3 linked regions of the Homo sapiens genome follow. The protein of the gene in region 2 interacts with the protein of the main gene of each other region in a biochemical or structural test. Each region holds a gene or a part of one and is shown on either strand. Other genes may lie near its edges.

Region 1 (5,633 bases), on a different chromosome or scaffold from region 2:
GGCGGATATAAGAGGGTGAAAGTAGACGTGCTCCGGCAAATCAGGTGAGCGGAGATGCCTCAGGCAGGCCTACGCCCTGCTTGTTCTGGGATGCGTGATCTCTGCGTGGCTGGCTCAGTTGTGCCAGGGCTTGGGTGAGGGTTACTTCTTCCCTCCTGCTGCCTACTGTGTTTTAGCAGAGTCTGATAGAAACAAACTCGATTACTCGCTTAGCCAAACTGAGCTAGAAGGCCTGTATTGTGGAAGAATCCCCAGCATCATCCTTCAAAAGTGAAGCTGGGCCAGGCGTGGTGGCCTGCTGCAAATCCCAGCGCTTTGGGAGGGTCACTTGAGTGCAGGAGTTCAAGACCAGACCGGGCAGTATAGCGAGACCTCATCTCTACAACATCAACAAAAAAGGAAAAAAGTGAAGCAGGCTCCTTTTTAGGAATTTGTCATAGGAAGTCCCTCTGAGGTCAGGCTTGCAGCAGGGTCGGCTGGCTGTGTTTGGGTGTGCTGTGAGCCGTGGCCTCCTGCAAAGTACGAACCCTCTGCTTTGCTGCATCCCAGGTTATGGGCGTCACTGTACAAAGATGAATACTGGCTTGGAGTGGAGTCAGCCTTCATGTCCACATTAAACTTGTTCCTTTCTTGCCTTCCCAGGTCTGACTTTGTCACCCTGCCGTTTCAGGGAGCAGAAGTCCTTCTGGACAGTGTGATGCCCCTGTCAGGTAACAGCTGAGGCCTTTGGCTTGGGGGATTGTTGGGGACAGTTGTTGAGAGTAGGTCTTTCTCAGAGCCTCCGTTCTCACCTGGAGGATTTATGCTAACATAAGTTGCTACCACTCAAGAGTTTCTGACTGAATAGGTCTGGGCTTAGGCCCAGGAACTTACATTGCTATCAAGTTCCCAGGTGAGACCAGTGCTGCTGATCCTTTGAGATCCACTGCTCTAGACTGTACTCAGACCTCAGGCATCAAGGGGCTTCCAACAAAGGCACTTTCCAGATTATAGTCCAGACCCAGAGTCTTAGCCCCGGTGGTTGAGGGCGTGCTGGTCACTGATACTGCTCAGCCAGGCCATAGCTCCATAGGGCACAGTGGGGACACCCTATCTGGTGTCTTAGACTATGAAAGCATTGTCAGAGGGAAGAGGACTGGCAAAATCTTGGGTAAATGACTTAGCCTCAATTTTCACCCCAGAACATGGGAATGGTACCTGTCTTTGATGCTGGCTGTGAGAATTACATAAACCTAAGATCTGGTGTGTAGAGGGTGGCGAAATGGCAGCTGTTTATGGCTAGGAATTTTATATTTGTAGGTGATAGTTCATCCCATCCCACTCCCTCCCCAGGTTTGCCCCTTCTGATCTCCTTCTTGCTTGTCTTAAGCGATTTGCATGCGTTAGAAATACTACAGTCTAGCTGGAGTCGGCTTAGAGGGAGCACTGGGGCAAGATCTTTGTTTTGCTTCTTTTATTGCTGTTGCCCCTCCTTCCTCTCTGCTTCTGTCCATCTAAGCGATCTGTCCAGACCCAGCTGAAACTTTCTCCTTCGTAAGATTTTCCCGGATCTTCCTTGGTAAACCCCTGTCTCTCCCATCCTTGCCACTGCTTGCCTTGGGTATGGTGTTCTATGTAACTTTTGTAATCCAGCAAAGCTGAATGCTGCCGCAGCGCCTTGCCCACTCTGAGTGGCTGGCCTTATTGGGCTGTGTGGCCAACTGCCTGGGTTTGATTCCCACCTTCACCACTTGGGAGCTGGTTGACCTTCAGGAATCCACCTTTGCCTCAGTGTTCTCTCCTGTAAAGTGGGGATAGCACTTGGTGTTACTAATTTTGTGGAAGAACACATATGCTCTGCACTGCCAGCATCCGAGTTGGTGGGGGTGGGGGTGGTGCTGCTGCTGGTGGTATTGGTGGTGGTGTTAGTGGTGAAGTTTCTGTCCATCTGTTGTCTGTGCTGCACCAGTGGGCAACATGCAGTAGCGGCCCTTAGTTTATCCACTGGGAGTCATATGGAGGCCTAGGCTCTGTCTCTGACCTGGGTGGATCTCCCCAGTGCAGTTCTCAAGTTCCACAGCATCTGAAGCATTCTACTTGGAATGCACCTGAAACTTGTGTACATGACAAGGGTGCCTTGCCTCAGTGAGAGCCTAAATGCCGCTTTTCCTTTTCCTCCTGAAGACGATGACCAGTTTTCACCGGAAGCAGATGCCGCCATGAGCGAGATGACGGGGAATACAGCACTGCTTGCTCAGGTGTGTGGTTGGCAGGGGTGGGGGAGGCAGGCTGGCTGGGTTCTTGGGAACTGACCTTTCAATGCCTTCTTTCCTGTGGCTTGGCCCTGGATTGACCAGCAGTATTTAAGGAAAGGTGCATGAAGTAGCTAATACTTGATATTAGTCTGTTCTCACATTGCTGTAAAGAAATACCTGGGACTGAATAATCTATAAAGGAAAGAGGTGTAATTGACTCACAATTCTGCGGGCCTGGGGAGACCTCAGGAAACTTACAATCATGGCAGAAAGGGAAGAGGCACGTCTTACATGATGGGCAGGCAAGAGACAGTATGTGAAGGAGGAACTGTCAGATACTTATAAAACCATCAGATCTCATGAGAACTCACTATGACGAGAACAGCATGGGCACACCGCCTCATGATCCAATCACCTCCCACCAGGTCTCTCCCTCGACACATGGGGATTATGGAGATGACAATTCAAGATGATATTTGAGTGGGGACACAAAACCTAACCATATTATTCTTTCCACCCCCCTTCTTCAGGTGACAAGTTACAGTCCAACTGGTCTTCCTCTGATTCAGCTGTGGAGTGTGGTTGGAGATGAAGTAAGTTCTGCCCTTCTTTTCCTTCTGTGTTGCTGGCCCGAAGTAATGGATTGATTAGGAGCTGGTCCTGGGATTTGTTTCCTCTTGAGTTAATCAGAGGATATAACTGTAGACAAGCACCTCCTAGGGAACACTTTGGATGTCCTGATTGGCAGTGGTGATGTCAGTGTCCTCTAGTGGGTAGAGGCCAAGGATGCCACTAAACATCCCATAGTATTCAGGACAGCCCCCCACAGCAAATAATTATCCAACCGCAAATGTCAATAGCGCCAAGGTGGAGAAACCCTGTGCGAGACTTTCTGGGACCTTCTGTCTGTTGAGTTTTTCTGTCCTCTATCTTATGGTATGAAAGCTTAGATTTCTTCAGCATATTAAAAAGCCTATCCTGGCCAGGTACAGTGGCTCACCCCTGTAATCCCAGCACTTTGGGAGGCCGAGACGGGCAGATCACTTGAGGTCAGGAGTTTGAGACCAGCCTGGCCAACATGGCGAAACCCCCATCTCTACTAAAAATGCAAAAATCTGCTGGGTGTGGTGATGCACACCTGTGATCCCAGCTGCTTGGGAGGCTGAGGCAGGAGAATCACTTGAACCTGGGAGACGGAGGTTGCAGTGAACCAACATTGTGCCACTGCACTCCAGCCTGGGTGACAGAGCAAGACTCTGTCTCAAAAAACAAAAACAAAAACAAAAAAACCCTATCCTTATGCCACAGCAGCCAACAGAATACTTAAATAAATGTTCCTGTTGGCTAGAGCATAAGCCATGTCCCCCACCCTGTTACTCTTTTTTTTTTTTTTTTTTTTGAGACAGTCTTGCTCTTGTTATCCAGGCTGGAGTGCAGTGGCGTGATCTTGGCTCACTGTAACCTCCGCCTCCGGGGTTCAAGCGATTCTGCTTCAGCCTCAGTAACTGGGATTACAGGTGCCTGCCACCACACCTGGCTAATTTTTGTATGTTTAATAGAGACGGGGTTTCACCATGTTGGCCAGGCTGGTCTCGAACTCCTGACCTCAGGTGATCCACCTGCCTCAGCCTCCCAAAATGCTAGGATTACAGGCATGAGCCACTGCGTCTGGCCTACACTGTTACTCTCATACATCTGTTGCCTGCAGTGGCAACCGGGGAGGGGAGAACTCATGTTGGCTAGGGAGATGGCCCCAGGATGCCATGGACAAAAGCTTTAAGGGAACTTTCTTTTCTAGGTGGTGTTGATAAACCGGTCCCTGGTGGAGCGAGGCCTTGCCCAGTGGGTAGACAGCTACTACACAAGCCTTTGACCCCCATGCTGCTTCCTGAGAGTCTTTTTTTGCACTGTTGAAATTGGGCTTGGCACTCAAGTCAAAGATGAACATCGGAATAACAAACATTGTCCTCTCCAGAAAGTCCTTTCTTTCTCCATACTGTAGTCCTATTGAGAAGACATTTCGTCTCTGAGAAAAAAGGATGGAACTATGGGTTCTCTTCGCAAAGCCAAAGGATAGTGTTTAACAAGCCAGCTGGCTTATGCTGGTTCTCAGCTGTTTAAAAAAAAAAAAAAAAAGGAATAGAAACAGTTTCAACCAGATTGTCCTATTCCCCCTGTTCCATTCCCCTCTTCTTCCTTCTATCTCCTTCCCCGGCAAAAACCAAACAAACTGGCAGACAGGCCAGGGATGTATGTTGCTTGCTTGAGAGGGTTTCTTTTACTTCAAAATCTTTCTTCAGGGAGCAAGACATGAACTGACTAATTGGTATCCACTACTTGTACAGCTTACATAAATGAGTTGATGATATTTAACCAGTTTTTATAAACTTCATTTAGGTCTCTAAACACAGACTTTTTAAATTGCAACTGTAAATATGAAATGGTCATCACATCTGACCTTGGTCAGTGGGGAGGGGAACTGGTATCCTGCCAAGCCTGGTTGTAATTTGTAACCATTTTCTATTTGTGCAAACTCTGTAAATATGTGTTTAAACAAATGTAATATTTTGTACAAGATACACTGGAGAACAAAGGGAACTCAAGATTCTTCCAGCCACATGTCACCTGTAGGTAGAAGTAAACTCTGCAGTGCAGCTTCTGCTCTTGGCCCCTCTGGCCAGGGCCCCTGTGGCTTCCTGCACACTGGACAGGTGACTGTATGGTAGAGACTGTGATCTGGGAACTTTTTGCTGTACAAATCTGTTTAAAAAAAAAAAAAAGTAACTCATTGAATTAACTTGCAGTGGTGTGTTTGATTCTTTTTTAGACTGGCTTCAGCATTGTGCAGTTTAAAAATAAGTAAGTAACTTACATAAATCTTCAATTGTATGAACTGCAGCTTTGAGTCCATTTTTTTCCAGTGGTGAAGAATTGGCGGGGGGGGGGTGGTGAGTGTGGCGAGCTGGATCACAGGCCCCACACAACTGCCTCTGCAGGAGACCCATGGTTTTTTGAAGACAATTTGGCCAGAAATTTCTATCTGGCCTTTTCCTCTCTCTCCTTGTCCCACCAGGTGGCAGCCAAGCGTCCTCCGACTTCTTCACTGCATGTTAACTGGCCAGACTCAGTTTAAAGCACTGGCTTCCAAAACGGGTTGTGCCTTCTTTGGTTGTCATTCTTAATAGATTCGTGAAGTTATTTAATTTACTGTAGTGATAAGAATGATGTAAAAAATACATGTAAGTTATGGGATGAGATACTGCCTCAATTTAATAGCCCCTGCTCTTAAAGAAGGCTGGCCACTGCAGCCCAGGCCTACCCCAGTGCCCCGCCCCTGCCCCCTACGTTTGAGGCCTCTGGCTGCAGGGCTGTTGAGCTTGAGCTCTAGTTTTTAGAGAG
Region 2 (7,865 bases):
CAGTCTGGGCGACAGAGACCTTGTCTCGAAAAAATATATATATGTAAATTAAATTTGTGAGGCTGGGCACAGTGGGTCACGCCTGTAACGTCAACACTTGGGGAAGCTAAGGCAGAAGGATCACTTGAGGCCAGGCATTCCTGGGTGACAGAGTGAGACTCTGTCTCAAAAAAAATAAAAAGTAAAAACAAATAGAGGCCGGGCGCGGTGGCTCACGCCTGTAATCCCAGCACTTTGGGAGGCCGAGGCGGGTGGATCATGAGGTCAGGAGATCGAGACCATCCTGGCTAACAAGGTGAAACCCCGTCTCTACTAAAAATACAAAAAATTAGCCGGGCGCGGTGGCGGGCGCCTGTAGTCCCAGCTACTCGGGAGGCTGAGGCAGGAGAATGGCGTGAACCCGGGAAGCGGAGCTTGCAGTGAGCCGAGATTGCGCCACTGCAGTCCGCAGTCCGGCCTGGGCGACAGAGCGAGACTCCGTCTCAAAAAAAAAAAAAAAAAAAAAAAAAAAAACAAATAGAATTGTGTAAAGCACCTATGTTTGGAGCTGAAAATCAAATTTTTAATAAATCACATCAATACTGTGTTGGCTGATGTTATTTAGGAGCCTGGAAATCTAAGGAGATTGAGAGGTTAAATTCTAGTGGAGGGCGGTGGCTCACACCTGTAATCCCAGCACTCTGCGGGGCTGAGGTGAGCGGATCACCTGAGGTAAGGAGTTCAAGACCAGCCTGGCCCATGTGGTGAAACCGCCTCTCTACTAAAAATACAAAAAATTAGCTAAGCATGGTGGCACATGCCTGTAATCCCAGCTACTTGGAAGGCTGAGGCAACACAATCGCTTGAACCCGGAGGTGGAGGTTGCAGTGAGCCGAGATCATGCCGCTGCACTCCAGCCTGGGCAACATCTTCTGTGTAGTCAGTTACCGCCTACAACTGTCATTTTTCTGCCTTTTACCATTCAGTCTTTCACTTGCTCCATCCAACCACTCTGGCCTCCTTAGACTTCCTGAAACTCTGTTTCTTTCAGGTTTCTGGTCAAAAATTACTTCTTAAGAAAGGCCTTCCCCCCATCACCCTATATAAAATGACACACACATCCCACCTGTCACTTTTTTTTTTTTTTTTTTTTGGAGACAGAGTGTCACTGTTGCCCAGTGGCACAATCACAACTCACTGCAGCCTTGACCTCCTGGGCTCAGGTGATTCTCTCACCTCAGCCTCCACAGTAGCTAGATTACAGGCACACACCATGCCCAGCAATTTTTTTTTTTTTTTAAGAGATGGGAGTTTTGCCATGTTGCCCAGGCTGGTCTTGAGCTCCTGGCCTCTAGCAGTCCACCCACCTCAGCCTCCCAAAGTGCTGAGATTACAGGCATGAGCCACGTGCCTGGCCTCACCTGTTACTCTTTATCCCTAACTTTGCTGTATTTTTATCTGTACCACTTACCACTAGCTGACACTACATATTTATTTATGTATTTCTCTCCCTCAACTAGGATATAAGCTTATGAGAGCCGAGACTTTTATCCTCCCCTGCTTATCTCCAGTGTGCAGAACAGACACCTGAGTAAAATTATTAAATGAAAGAAATGAACGTAAGGAGTTTTTAGACGGAATGACATTCAAAGCATCTGTGACACTTTCAGAGACAACATAGCACAGTACTTTCACAGAGTAGTCCCTTAAGACTTGCTGAAGTTTATTTGCAAAGAGGTAAACTATTATCTGAACCCCAAATAGGTAGCAATTCAAAATTACTAGCCTTCTTTCTTCTAAGACCCAGGAGTTATGCTCCTAGAATTTTCCTCTAAACTTTGCTTCTGTCCAAAGGGCAGTTACCAATTTATTTCCCACTTCCCAAACTTCCTAGTTTCATATGACCCAAGTCCTCATCCCTGCGAACAATTCCATTCTACACCCTTGAATATCCCAGTGAGTTGAGTGACACATAGCAGGCATTCAAATTAGTGCTAAGCCAATAAAGTAAACTGTACCCTACCCCTTGAAATCCTCCTGTTTCCAACACTTTACTCATCTACTTAACTTAGATCTTGAAGCCACGAATGAAGAGATACAGCGTTAACAGTAAGCTTTCATTTTAAAAAGTGAAAACAATGTAACCACCTTGATATGCCCTCGAGCTCTTTAAGCTGTAATTCTACTTTATGAAATATACACAAAATAAGAATTGACACAGACAGACTAAGGAATGGGGGCTGAAAAGCCACAGCCAAATTCGCTATGAATCTCCTACTTTGGGGATTAGGCTCACTCAGCTACTTCATAGCCCACTTGGAAATTCGGTCATTTTTCCAGTTGCTCTTTGTTGGAGGGAAACTTTCTTAACAAGATTCTGAGGACTCCATAAAAACCGTAAGGTGGGAGGAATTGGGATCTGAAGGTCCTTGGCAAACATGTCCACTGCGGCTGCTGGAGGCAAAGCAACGGAAGTTGAAGAGACTTTGCAACAGCTGCAAGAGTTTCACTCCCGGTGCGGAGAAGGGTAGCGGAGCTAGGCTACCCCACCCGGGCGGCGTCCAGCAGCCAGGTCCCTGCTGAACCCCGAGGCCCACCTCGCTGGACCCCGGACGGGCCCCATCTGTTTCCCCTCCTTCCCCACGCTACGGCCCGCTGGGGAACGGGGCAGCGCCGGGGAGCACGACGAGGGCACGAGGTACCCTCTCCTAGCCCAGGCTCACCCTTGGTCAGCGTGTCCAGCACCCCCGACTTCTCCAAGTACCTCCGGAACTGCTCACGCTTCGAGTCGGCGGCCTGAAGAGACACCGGGGGTCAGTGGCCAGAGCCCGGGAGCCGAGCAGGAAGAAGGCGCTGGGAGTCCGGCAACCCCGCCTCCGCCTCACTACCTCGGGGCCCTCCCGCCCAAACCTGCGCGCGCGACCCCACTCCCACCCAGAGCCGACCAGCGGCTTGCTACCGCCCGCATGCCCCCAGCCACGCCGCGCCCCCCTCACTTTGTAATGGGCCATAGTGACAGCGGCAGCGGCGTAGCTGGCGCCGGAGACCGCGACTGGCGGGTTGGGAGCAGCACTGCTCATGCGCGGAAGGGGGCGCGCGCCTGCGCACTTGCAAACCACCGGCCGGGATCGCCGAGGTGTGGCCTGTTTTCATGGCGACCAGGACGCTCTGCATCCCCAGTAGCAGGCTGAGCCGAGGGAGGCTGCGTATGCCCGCCCCTCTGGCTGTCGGAGCCGCACCTCTTCCTCTTCCGGCCCCCGTAGCAATTAGGTTTCTTTGCAGGAGGTGAGATTTTGGTACCTCTGTCCTGGCGTCCGGAGGCAGGGCCCGGGAGCATTGAGACTATTGCGAGAGAAAGGACCGCCGCACGGTGGTAGCGAGCGCATCTTTTTCATCTGGGACCTCGGAAACTGTGGTGACCCATAGGTGCTGGGCTTCTTGGCTCTCGTCCTGAGAAAGTGCTCACAGTGCTTTGCAGTAGCCGAGGAGGGTGTTTAGAATCATATATTTTGGCTTCAGCTTTTATCTTTGGAGTCTCCTTGAGTCGTGGCTGACTTGATGTGGGCCTCTGGAGGATGAGCAGTAACGAGCTTGCAGTAGCTTTTGAGCCAGGCACTGTAGAAAACACGGGTATTTTAAATTTTAATCCTTACAACACCCCTGTAGGGTGGGTATTGTTAATTAAGTGGAGTGGTTAGATGTCCAGTGAGTAGAGTCGAGTCCAATCCGGGCAATGAATCACGATGCTATGAACTGGTGAAGGAAAGCCACGGATCTTCTTAAGATTTTATTTACTAGGTAGCAACATGTGATTATACTCAAGACACATCAGGATGCCAGTCTAGAAGGAAACTTACGTGATTGTGTTCCAGGGGCAAACAGAATTAACCCAGTGTCCAAGGTGGAATTGTATAGATCAAGAACCATTTCCTAAGGCTGTGGTCTCTTCAAAGAGAAAACCTGATCAAACCATTTAGCCTCAATTCTGAACATGTGATTTTCCCAAAATCAGTTACATTCGAAAGGATATCATTTAAAAAAAAAAAAATCCTGATTTGACAACTCTATGTCTTTGAATTTAGAAGTGTTGCTTCACAATCTCGAATTAGAGCTGTTTTTCTCTTGCTTAAATGAGTTTGCAGTTGTCTGTCTTAACAGCTGGTCTTTAGAGCTGCCCCTATCTATTTTTTCTGTGCCCCACGACCACTAGGCTACTTCTCTGATAATATATATAATGTCTAAAAGCCAACCGCTGTTTAGATCTGAAGATCTGTGGGAACCCGCCTACCAATGAGATTGTTCGTTAGGGACACTACGTGATTTGGAGGACAAACAGGATTATTACAGGTTCTGACCAACCCTGGCTCAAAGGACAGCCCTCCCAAAGAATCAGCAGTGTTTGGAATGTCAAGTGATTGAGAATCTCCTTGTGAAGGAGGAAGGGTTCTGACTGTGCCCTTTCTGAACTGGCCCTTGAGGTTACCTTTAGGAGGTGACCCCCGGTTTTCATGTTCTGTAGAGGAACCCCATGTAGCTCTAAGCCACCGCGGTTTCCAATCGCAGTTAGCTGGCAAGGAGAAAACTGTTTGGGGTGACTGCCTCATGTTGTTCTCTCCATCTATAGCAACACCTGGAATAGAACGGTGACCTCTAGAGTAGTAGTTCCTTTTGCTGTCTTTGCCTTCAGTTTCTCTTTTTTCCATTAACTGGTTACCATTAAGTTCTTTTCCAAATATTTTATGAGTGTCTTTGTTATTGTTTGAACTGATGTGTTGAAAATGACTACAACTAGTACTAAGTGTGGAAATCTCATTAGAAAGTACAGTTTCCTGTTCATCCAAAATGCATTTCTCATCATTTACACTATGATTGTCAGGATTTGGCTGGAATACAGAAGATGAATTTAAACTAGGGTACACTGCAGTGTGTGTTTGCTTTTCCACTAACAGATTATAATCAGGGGCAGAAGGGAGTCGCTTCAGTGAATTTGCAGATGTGCTCTGGTATTTGGCTACATTTTGTTTTGCCTTGTTTGCATGGAATTCATTATGTTCCTTCTTCAACTTGTATTTTCCCCAAAGCCCTCTTTTAATCTTTTTAAAACCTAGGTGGAAAATTTCAAGAATGTTTAAGAAAAGTGAAATAGTGGCTATAGATTGCATAAATAATAGGAATATTGTCTTTTCTGTTGGTCTTGAGACAAAACAGTCGATTATATTTGGACACGGGTGGCCATGGCACTTAAATAGCGGCTCTAAGTGAAATCCATATAAAAGGTACTGTCCAATCATGAATCCAACTTCAACCACAGAGCGAGTGAAAATGTGTATCACATAAGTGCAAAGCAAGGTTCCTCTGAGTGGAGCTTTATTTAGTTTCCTTTTCTCCAGCTGACAAAGCTCTTGCTCCAATCTCCTCCGATCCCTAGGCATTTCAAACTCTACCTCCTCCAGTTCTACTCTTAACTGAGCTTTCATCCTTTGCCTCTCTTCCTCAAGAACTCTCAGTCGGTACAATGCATGGCCCATGTAGACCAGGGATGGTGAAGACACAAATATCACCTGCAGAACCCAGTATCTAATGAGGGAGATAGGAAAGGCCTGGTCGTAGCATACATTTCTGCAGCCTGGTTGTTCTGTATTGCAGATGAAGCCAGACTGCTCATCATTCCAGACATCTTCAGCTGCTACACCCAGAACAAGCATTCGAAATATGAACAGGATGGTGAGCCAGATCTTTCCAATCATGGTGGAGTGGATGTGAACTTCCTCCAGAGTATCTCCAAGGAGATTCCAGTCCCCCATGTTTATTTAGTCAGCCATCTTAGCTCTGATCCACATCAAATAAGAGGCAGATAAATTCTTCCATTCTGAAGGGAGCACTATTTCTTAAAGCAAACCTATGGTGAAAATATAACAATATGTCACTTCTATATGCTGGTTGCTTTACTTTTTCCCTAGATAGCTGTGGGGTTTTTTCTTTGTTTGTTTGTTTGTTGAGACAGAGTCTCCCTCTGTTGCCCAGGCTGGAGTACAGTGTTGCAACCACAACTCCCTGCAGCCTCAACCTCCCAGACTCAAGCGATCATCTCCCCTCTCAGCCTCCTGAGTAGCTGGGACTGCAGGTGTGTGCAACTACACCCAGATAATTTTTTTTATTTTTTTGTAGAGACAGGGTCTCACTCTATTGCTGCAGCTAGTCTTAAACTCCTAGACTCAAGTGATCCTCTTGCCTTCACCTCCCAAAGTGTGGGAATTACAGGTGTGGGTCACCACACCTGGCCAAAGTGTGAATCTGTTACCAATAATATACTTAAATGTCAGGAATTTAAAATCACTTATATTTAGACATCACAATACAATGAAAAAAACATGATACCTGGAGGAGGAGTGTATATATTCTCTATTAAGAATATAGGCTGGGCGGGGTGGCTCACACCTGTAATCCCAACACTTTGGGAGGCCAAGGTGGGTGGATCATTTGAGGTCAGGAGTTCCAGACCAGCCTGGCCAACATGGTAAAACCCCGCCTCTACTAAAAATACAAAAATTAGCCAGGCGTGGTGGCAGGCGCTTGTAGTCCCAGCTACTCGGGAGGCTGAGGCAAGAGAATCGCTTGAACCTGGAAGGCAGAGGTTGCAGTGAGCTGAGATCAAACCCTTGACCTCAGATGATCTGGCCACCTCGGCCTCCCAAAGTGCTGGGATTACAGGCATGAGCCAATGCGCATGGCCTAAAATTATATTCTTTTTTTTTTTTTTTTTGAGACGGAGTCTCACTCTGTAGCCCAGGCTGGAGTGCAATGGCATGATCTCAGCTCACCGCAACCTCCACCTCCTGGGTTCAAGCGATTCTCCTGCCTCAGCCTCCTGAGTAGCTGTGATTACAGGCATGCACCACCATGCCCGGATAATTTTGTATTTTTAGTAGAGATGATGTTTCTCCATGTTGGCCAGGCTGGTCTCGAACTCCTGACCTCAGGTGATCTGCCCACCTCGGCCTCCCAAAGTGCTGGGATTACAGGCGTGAGCCACCATGCCCAGCCTATTGTTGTTTTTCAACAGAACTTTTGGAAAGGTTTCTAAAACTAGTAACCTGATCTTAACCTTATTTATTAAGATTATTTGATATAAAAGTTATAACAAAGTCAATTTCTTTTTCCCCAACATGCCATTACTGGCTTGAAAAGTCAGTGATTTTTTTTTCTTTCTTTCTTTCTTTTGGGACAGAGTCTTGCTCTGTCGCCAGGCTGGAGTGCAGTGGCGCAATCTCGGCGCATTGCAACCTCCGCCTCCTGGGTTCAAGCGATTCCCCTGCCTCATCCTCCTGAGTAGCTGGGATTACAGGCGCCTGCCAACACCCCCCGGGATAATTTTTTGTATTTTAGTAGACACGGGGTTTCACCATGTTGGCCAGGATGATCTCGATCTCCTGACCTCGTGATCCACCCGCCTCAGCCTCCCAAAGTGCCAGGATTACAGGCATGAGCCACCGTGCCCGGTCAAAAAGTCAGTGATTTTTAAATCTCATTTATACACATAGGAAAACGAATATGCTTCATTTGATAATTCAGTAAGATATGGCATTCAGTGAAACCAGAGGAAACAGATCTGGCTGTCATAGGAATTTAGATTAGTTTTTTTAATCCAAATTGAAATAAATTTGAAATAAATTCTGGTTTCTTCCTGGCAATTGGTGAACATTTTCAGAAATTCATCTCAGTAATATTTATGAATATGTATAAAGTACTTATTATACTTTACTATGAAAAAGTATACTTTTTTTCTTTTTTTTTGGTGGGGGGAGACAGAGTCTCACTCTGTTGCCCAGACTAGAGTGCAGTGGCAGGATCTCAGCCCACTGCAACCTCCACTTCCCAGGTTCAAG
Region 3 (7,034 bases), on a different chromosome or scaffold from region 2:
TTTGGAAGTTCAACCTGTGCTGGAGCAAGTACTTTAAATAGTTGTTTTTTTTTTTTGTCTTGTTTTGTTTTTTGAGATGGAGTCTCACTCTGCCACCCAGGCTTGAGGACAGTGGCGTGATCTCAGCTCACTGCAACATCCACCTCCCGGGTTCAAGTGATTGTCCTGACTCAGCCTCCCAAGTAGCTGGGATTACAGGTGCCCACCACCTCACCCAGCTAATTTTTGTATTTTTAGTAGAGTCAGAGTCTCATCATGTTGGCCAGGCTGGTCTCAGACTCCTGACCTCAAGTTATCCTCCTGCCTCGGCCTTCCAAAGTGCTGAGATTACAGGTCTGAGCCACCGCACACGGGCTTTAGTTTGTAATGCTGAACTGTAACTGCTATTGAAGTCACTTTCCAATAGTTGCTATAAATTTCTAACATGTAGATAATATATGGCTTCTTATGTTTTCAGTAGAAATTATTCTACTATAAAATTCTAGTTGAATAAATAACTTCAAATCAGCTTTGTCATCCGAAGTCACATGAAGTTTTATTATATTACTGCACCATTATCTTGAATCAAGAGAATAAATTATTTTTTCTCAAATTAAATAATTACACATTTGAACCATGTGATCAAATGTGCTTAGTTTATAATAAGGCCTAATGAACTCCTCTGATGAAGGTTTCTGGCTTCGTATCTTTCCAGGTGGGTCAGGGAATAGAATGTAAAAGAGGAAAGCTACTTTGAACTCTTTCAGTAACTTAATACATGGTTTCTTAACTAACTTCTTAATTTCTCCAACCTATTTTTTCCCCATTTCTGTTGGCTTTAGGGGAGAGTAAAATATGAGTAACAAAGAGCAATGATCCCTTTCCCACCTCCTCCCCAACCTCAAACAGGACCCAAACTCAGAAAGGTCCCACATCTGCTCCATGCTGGCCTGACCCCTGCTGTGTCCTGGCTCCTGCCCTCAGGCTCACCTGCTCTGGCTTTAGTACTCTTATGGCAGCCAGGGCTGCTCTATGTGTTCTATCCAGGCCCTTTCCTCCTCCACCACTGCCCAGGCACCAGGAGCATGCACTGTCTGCCATACCTACAGTCTTCTAGATTTTCTCTCCCAGCCCCAACAGAGCTGTACAGAGAGGGGCTTCACAAACCTAGCAAATCCTGTTCTACTATGAACTTCATTGAATGTTTTAAAAGTATTAACTTTTTATTCTCTTTGAAAAGGTGCTTATGTAGAATCCAAAGGAAAGACTCCAACAGCTAGCCATGAAAAGGGTGTGGCTGGAGAAGGCCAGCTGGTCCCAAGACAATTCCATCCCTGATAACACAAGGTGGCATTATACTCACTGCTCAGAAACTCAAACATACTGGAATTCCAGAATTGACCTCACTCAGGAATACTGATTCATTCTTTAAAAAGTTCTAAGACAGATAGAGAGTAGCTACAATGTCAAATGTCATGGTTTAACTCTTGGATGGAATCTTTATCCCTTGTGTCACGGTTATTTAGGGAGGAGTTGGGGAGGTCATGGTGTTCATCACTGCAGGCCTCTGAACTCCCTAGAATTAGTTAACAACTTTTAGACTGAGGCAGTTATGACCTCCAAAGCAGGTAATTCAGTGAGCCTGATTTTAAAGAATTACCAGAAGGCTCTTTAGGGATCTACATAGCTCATAGCTCCCCTTTTGCTCATACAAAACATTTCATAGAATATAAGTCTACAGCTATTTCTGGATAAACTGGTACCCCAAGAAGTTGCTCTGTCTAGGGAGAGCAGGGAATCTGTACTCCATCTCTATAAAGAGCCAAAGCCATCCACACAGTCTTAAAAAAATGTCAAGGGTGAAGTAGAGTCATAACTAGCATTTATCTTGAGGATTACAGACATTTAATAACACATGTCCTGTTCATATGATGATATATATTATTAGGAATAACTATATTCTTTAAATGCACCCTTGAAAACCTAGTCCTGAATAAATTTGTATTCAGAAATATGAGACCTTAAAAAAGGTTTCTATTCCTGATAATTTCATGAATACCTTAGACTTTTTTCTCTTACAGAAATATTAAATTATATTAACAGAGGAAAGAGTGTAGCAAAAATTAGATTTTTAAAGGAATACTCTACCAGTCTGCTGTCTTGTCCTGAAACTAGAGACAAGAAATACACATTTGTCTCAGATTCAGCCCTTGTCCCTTACCTCCCTCTTACCTTGGTTCACTCCGTTGTGGGGCAGAAACCATGTTTTATTTATCTTTGTATACCACATTATCTGTGTAGATTAGATGGTTATTAAGTTATAAAATTCTAGCATTCAAAAAATATTACATGACTGATTTGTTTATTTAATGAAATGTTGAAGAACTGTCATCAAATAAGTGTTTCAGAGAAGCAAAAGAAGATATTTAAAGCACTTTTCAACTTTTTTAAACTACAACTGCTACAATTTGAATATGTGTCTGTGTCTTCTCCAAAATTCATGTTTAAACTTAGTCCCCATTGTCGTGGTATTAAGAGGTAAGGCTTTTAGGGGAAGTGATTAAGTCACGAGGACTCCACCCTCATCAATGGATTAGTGCCTTATAAAAGGATTACAGAGAACTAGCATAGGTCCTTTTTGGCCTTCCACCTTCCTCCACGTGAGGACACAGCATTTGCTTCTTCTGCCATGTGAAGACACAGCAAGAAGGCCCTCACCGACACTGACTGCCCATTGGACTGCCTTGCTTCTTGGACTGCCCAGCCTTCAGAACTTCAAGAAATAAATTTATTTTATTTATATCACCCAATCTGTTAATTTGTTATAGCAGCACAAATGGACAACTAACAGTAAGAAATACATTTTATATCATAATCCATCATATACATATAAACATATGCATATATTTTTCTGAAACAAAAGTTATAAACAAAAACCAACTTACCCTCCATATACTTGATGCTTTGGTTATTTTCTATTCTGTTTCATGTTTTAAAATGCTGCTCATGACACACTAGAAGATTTCATACCCTTCTAATGTTTTGTGATCCACAATTTGAAAAATAGTGATTTAGTGAACTATCTTCTAAGAAAAAATATGGAAGCAAACAATAAATAAACTGAAAAAGAGTTTTCAAATAATGGTTACTTACTTGGATACGGCATAAACAACATTGAATGGCATCTGCTGAAAAAATGGGAGAAAAGGCCTGGGAGGAAAAAGAAAACATAAATGTGTGGGACTTTTGCAATGAATGCACTCTAAGCTCTCTTCCAGCTCTAATATTTGTCCCTTAAAAATCAGTGAGCTTAAATATCCCATATATCAGTGTTACTCAAACTTCTGGACATAAAAAATCACTGCAGGGTGGGGAGGTTCTTGTCTAAAATGCAGATTCCCAGGTCTGGCCCATGAGATTCAGTACATATAGGGTAGAGCCAATGAATGTGCATTCTTAATAAACACTCCAGTATTTTCTCTTCAGATGGGAAACAAGTCACACTTGAAGAAGCCACACTTTAAGCCCTGTACTTGGGCTTCAGCTGGCCATTAGTTCCCAACAACTTCTCAAGTTCCTGAGACATTCTGGAATTCACAGTGATTTAATATGAAGCCTCCCCCTAAAAGTTAAGAATTGTACAGTTAACTGTACAGAATTGTATAGTTAACAGTTAAGAATTTAACATTTCTCTGGAAAAGTCAGTATCACAAAATTTCCATAAGGAGGTTGCTCATAAATAATAATGTGGATTAGAAATTTACTTTCTCAAGGAAGCTTATACAGATGTGGTATCAAGACTATTTTTTCTAACTCCAGTAGGATATATAAGGAAATCCCCATCTAATTTTAATTTGATTTGAGTATATGGTTATTACATAAGCATAAATCACAAATGAAATAAAATGAACCTTTTGGCCTTGTTGGTTTAGGCAAGATTCATACAAAGAGAACAAATGTTATCCCTTTGAACACAAGTTTCCCCTTCACTATGACTTCATGGTATCTCCAACTGTGTGTCGTTCATTTGATGACTTCATTTCAAATATTTTCAAATACATATTCTTAGTTGCAATCAGTATCTCTAAAGTCAGGCAGGCTTAGTTGGAACCCCAGATCTACCCCTTGCTAGCTTATATGACCTTGAGCAATCTATTTATCATCTCTCGGTCTCAGCTTCATTACTGGTAAAACAGGGATCATATATATCTTAGCCTACATTCCTGTTTTAACGATTAGATCATATGCATGTAAAGCACTTAAAATAGAGTCTGGCACGTTGTATGCACTGAAAAATGATAACTATTATTATTATCATAAAGAGGTTCTCTAATAATATTAGGGCTCAAATATTCATTAGTAATTATGTTCTACCTTTCAAAGTATTTATAGCGATTCTTTCCAGTAACTTCAGGATCTTCATAAACTTCTTTAGGCATCTGAAAAGAAGCGTCAGTTCTAAAATGAAGCAAGAAAACATTATTCAAGTCTAAAATATTTCCACATATAATTTCTATTTAATATTTCTATGTGTATAGAGTAGGACCTACACAGAGTATCTCATACTGAGAGTAAAGTCTTCCATAACCTGCATTTGACTGCCATACAACTTAGAGTATATATGATTCTTCCCCTGAGCCAGGAGACCAGAACCTAGTCAGACAGAGCAAGAGCTGAGAAAAGAGTGGATTTATGAAATCCCACATACAAAAATGCCCAATTTTAATTAAAAGCACACAAGAATAGCAAAATATTAAAAGACAATTTTTTTTTTTTTTTTTTTTGAGACAGAGTCTCGCTCTGTCACCCAGGCTGGAGTGCAGTGGTGCAATCTCCACCTCCTGGGTTCATGCCATTCTCCTGCCTCAGCCTCCCAAGTAGCTGGGACTACAGGCACCTGCCACCACACCCGGCTAACTTTTTGTATTTTTAGTAGAGACGGGGTTTCACCGTGTTAGCCAGGATGGTCTCAATCTCCTGACCTCATGATCCGCCTGCCTCGGCCTCCCAAAGTGCTGGGATTACAGGCGTGAGCCACTGTGCCTGGCCAAAAGACACTTTTTCTATGTCCAGGTTAAAAGGCTTTATAATTTTTAATTTACTAAATGTGAACTTGTAAGTAATTAAAAGAATAAAGAATTCGACTTATTCTTGAAGGTGCTTTGGCCCCAAGTTCCCAAAAAATATTTTAGATACTAGCAGAACAGAGCACTTTCAGTTGCTAAGTTGGATCCAAGCAACAACAAACTCAATCATCCCTACCTTTGGTGGCAAGTTGTCATTATATATATGACAAAATTATATATATATATATATCTCATATATACAATATATAATCAGGTTTGTTTGGTCAAAAGAGGTTTAGAAAGAAAATTTGGCCTAGGTATAACACCACAACTGAACATTTTAAAACCACACATGGTAAATGAATTTAAAGAAATGCTTTTAATGCATTTATTTTAGGCCCTGGAGCCACCCGACACTTACGTGGTGAGCTGCCGGAGGGCTTCTCTGTGTTTCTCCTTATGTCCCTTCCATTCCCGACTGATAAATGGTGGGACAGGATCTGACTTGCTCCAATATAGAGAATATCTTGGATAATGGATCAGGTTACTGAACATGGTTTTAAACCTGGGAACTTTTCTCTAATGTTAGAGAAGGGAGGCAAAGGACAAAATTATACCATCAGCTTTTCTAAAGCATTTTAATTACATTGTAAACTCTTTTTAAAAACATACAAAACAATGTATACAGCATAAGAAGAGGGGTTATTGCTGTATGCGTAAAATATCTTTAAATACATGCCCAAGAAACTGATGACAATGGCTGTTTATGTGGAGGGGGTAGGGGATAGGGCTAGAATTTACTTCACACTGTATATGCTTTTATACTACTTGAATTCTTTTAACATGGGCATATATTATTAAATTTATCCCATTGAAATAAATTAGCTTATGGGTTCTCTGTTCATTATTGGTGACTTAATCCTCACAATGAGCCACACGTATTAAGATGCTTTGCCCTCCAGTAATCTTGGCAAGGTAATTTCTGTGGAACCTAAAATCCAGTGAAGATTTGGTGATTAGTCAATCTGATCAATGCAGTCAGGCAAACTAGATGGTTCAGGTTCATCAGGTAGCCTTGGCTGATGAATTAGACATACCAGTCTGCTGCGAATCAGGGTAGCTTGGATATTTGCCTGTGTATGGTCTTTCTCACTTGACACAATAAACAATGGATCTGCAAAATAAACAATCAAGTAGCATAACAGATAGAACATATCTACCCCTAGGCTGAGAATAATGGCAAAGTAATGTAATCTCTTAATTGGAAAACAAATTTAAAAGTTTAAATATTGTCTGACTCTGCAGCAGCTCATGCTCTGTTGTGCATGTGGCCCTGTTACTCTACCACTTCTACCAGCAACAGTTGTCAAGATGTTTTTCTTTTCTGAGTATTCCAAGTCAGCTTACGGAAGTGGAATTCATAAAGAAAGTCTAGCATGTTTTCAAGTACTACACCCTGAACACACTTTCTTCTCTCCTATGAACAAAACTCCTTTTGAGCCTGGGTAACCCAAAAAATTCTTCAAGGGAAAGACCTTGTATATACGCACTATGCCAATTTGCAAGTGAAAGAAGCAATACATTTATACCATCTCCCATATTTGGTGCACTAGAAAGATGCAAACCACATGATATCTCAGAATTGGTGAACACGGTTAAAAAAAAAATCAGCTATCTTCAGAATTCACCCCTTAAGTTTGTAAGTTTGCTGATGATGGAACTGTTATTTTTACAAAGTTCAACAAAATATTGCCCTGCTATTATAAGTATCTGTTTATCAGGTATATCTTTAAAGTGATGAAGAATATTCATGATTGACTATACTGTACCACCCTTTAAAATCAACTGATTTGCCATTAAATTAACAAGCAGCCTTTGGATACACTTGATTTCCCAAGTAGACTTGTCTCTGGGGAGGCAAATACCCTGACCAGCTAGTCTAGATAACATGGTAACACATATTTCTCCATAGAAATTAATAATTTGGGA

The links. Proteins that work in one complex are often made in the same cells at the same time.
Region 1: the proteins of MYCBP (region 2) and AKAP1 form a complex in vitro, tested with the Homo sapiens proteins (2 studies listed by BioGRID).
Region 3: the proteins of MYCBP (region 2) and CFAP91 form a complex in vitro, tested with the Homo sapiens proteins (one study listed by BioGRID and IntAct).

Annotation. Positions count from the first base shown.
Region 1 is NC_000017.11:57,116,218-57,121,850, forward strand, and holds the end of AKAP1 (A-kinase anchor protein 1, mitochondrial precursor), read left to right. Parts: coding exon 1-44; intron 45-642; coding exon 643-710; intron 711-2,163; coding exon 2,164-2,237; intron 2,238-2,764; coding exon 2,765-2,827; intron 2,828-4,032; coding exon 4,033-4,107; 3' UTR 4,108-5,127; downstream 5,128-5,633.
Region 2 is NC_000001.11:38,870,316-38,878,180, forward strand, and holds the start of MYCBP (C-Myc-binding protein), read right to left. Parts: upstream 3,034-7,865; 5' UTR 2,991-3,033; coding exon 2,976-2,990; intron 2,776-2,975; coding exon 2,703-2,775; intron 1-2,702. Other genes in the region: GJA9 (gap junction alpha-9 protein), read right to left, coding at 4,236-5,783. UniProt on the Homo sapiens protein: May control the transcriptional activity of MYC. Stimulates the activation of E box-dependent transcription by MYC.
Region 3 is NC_000003.12:119,705,994-119,713,027, reverse strand, and holds part of CFAP91 (cilia- and flagella-associated protein 91), read right to left. Parts: intron 6,220-7,034; coding exon 6,143-6,219; intron 5,625-6,142; coding exon 5,467-5,624; intron 4,438-5,466; coding exon 4,354-4,437; intron 3,190-4,353; coding exon 3,133-3,189; intron 1-3,132. UniProt on the Homo sapiens protein: Involved in sperm flagellum axonemal organization and function. May regulate cilium motility through its role in the assembly of the axonemal radial spokes.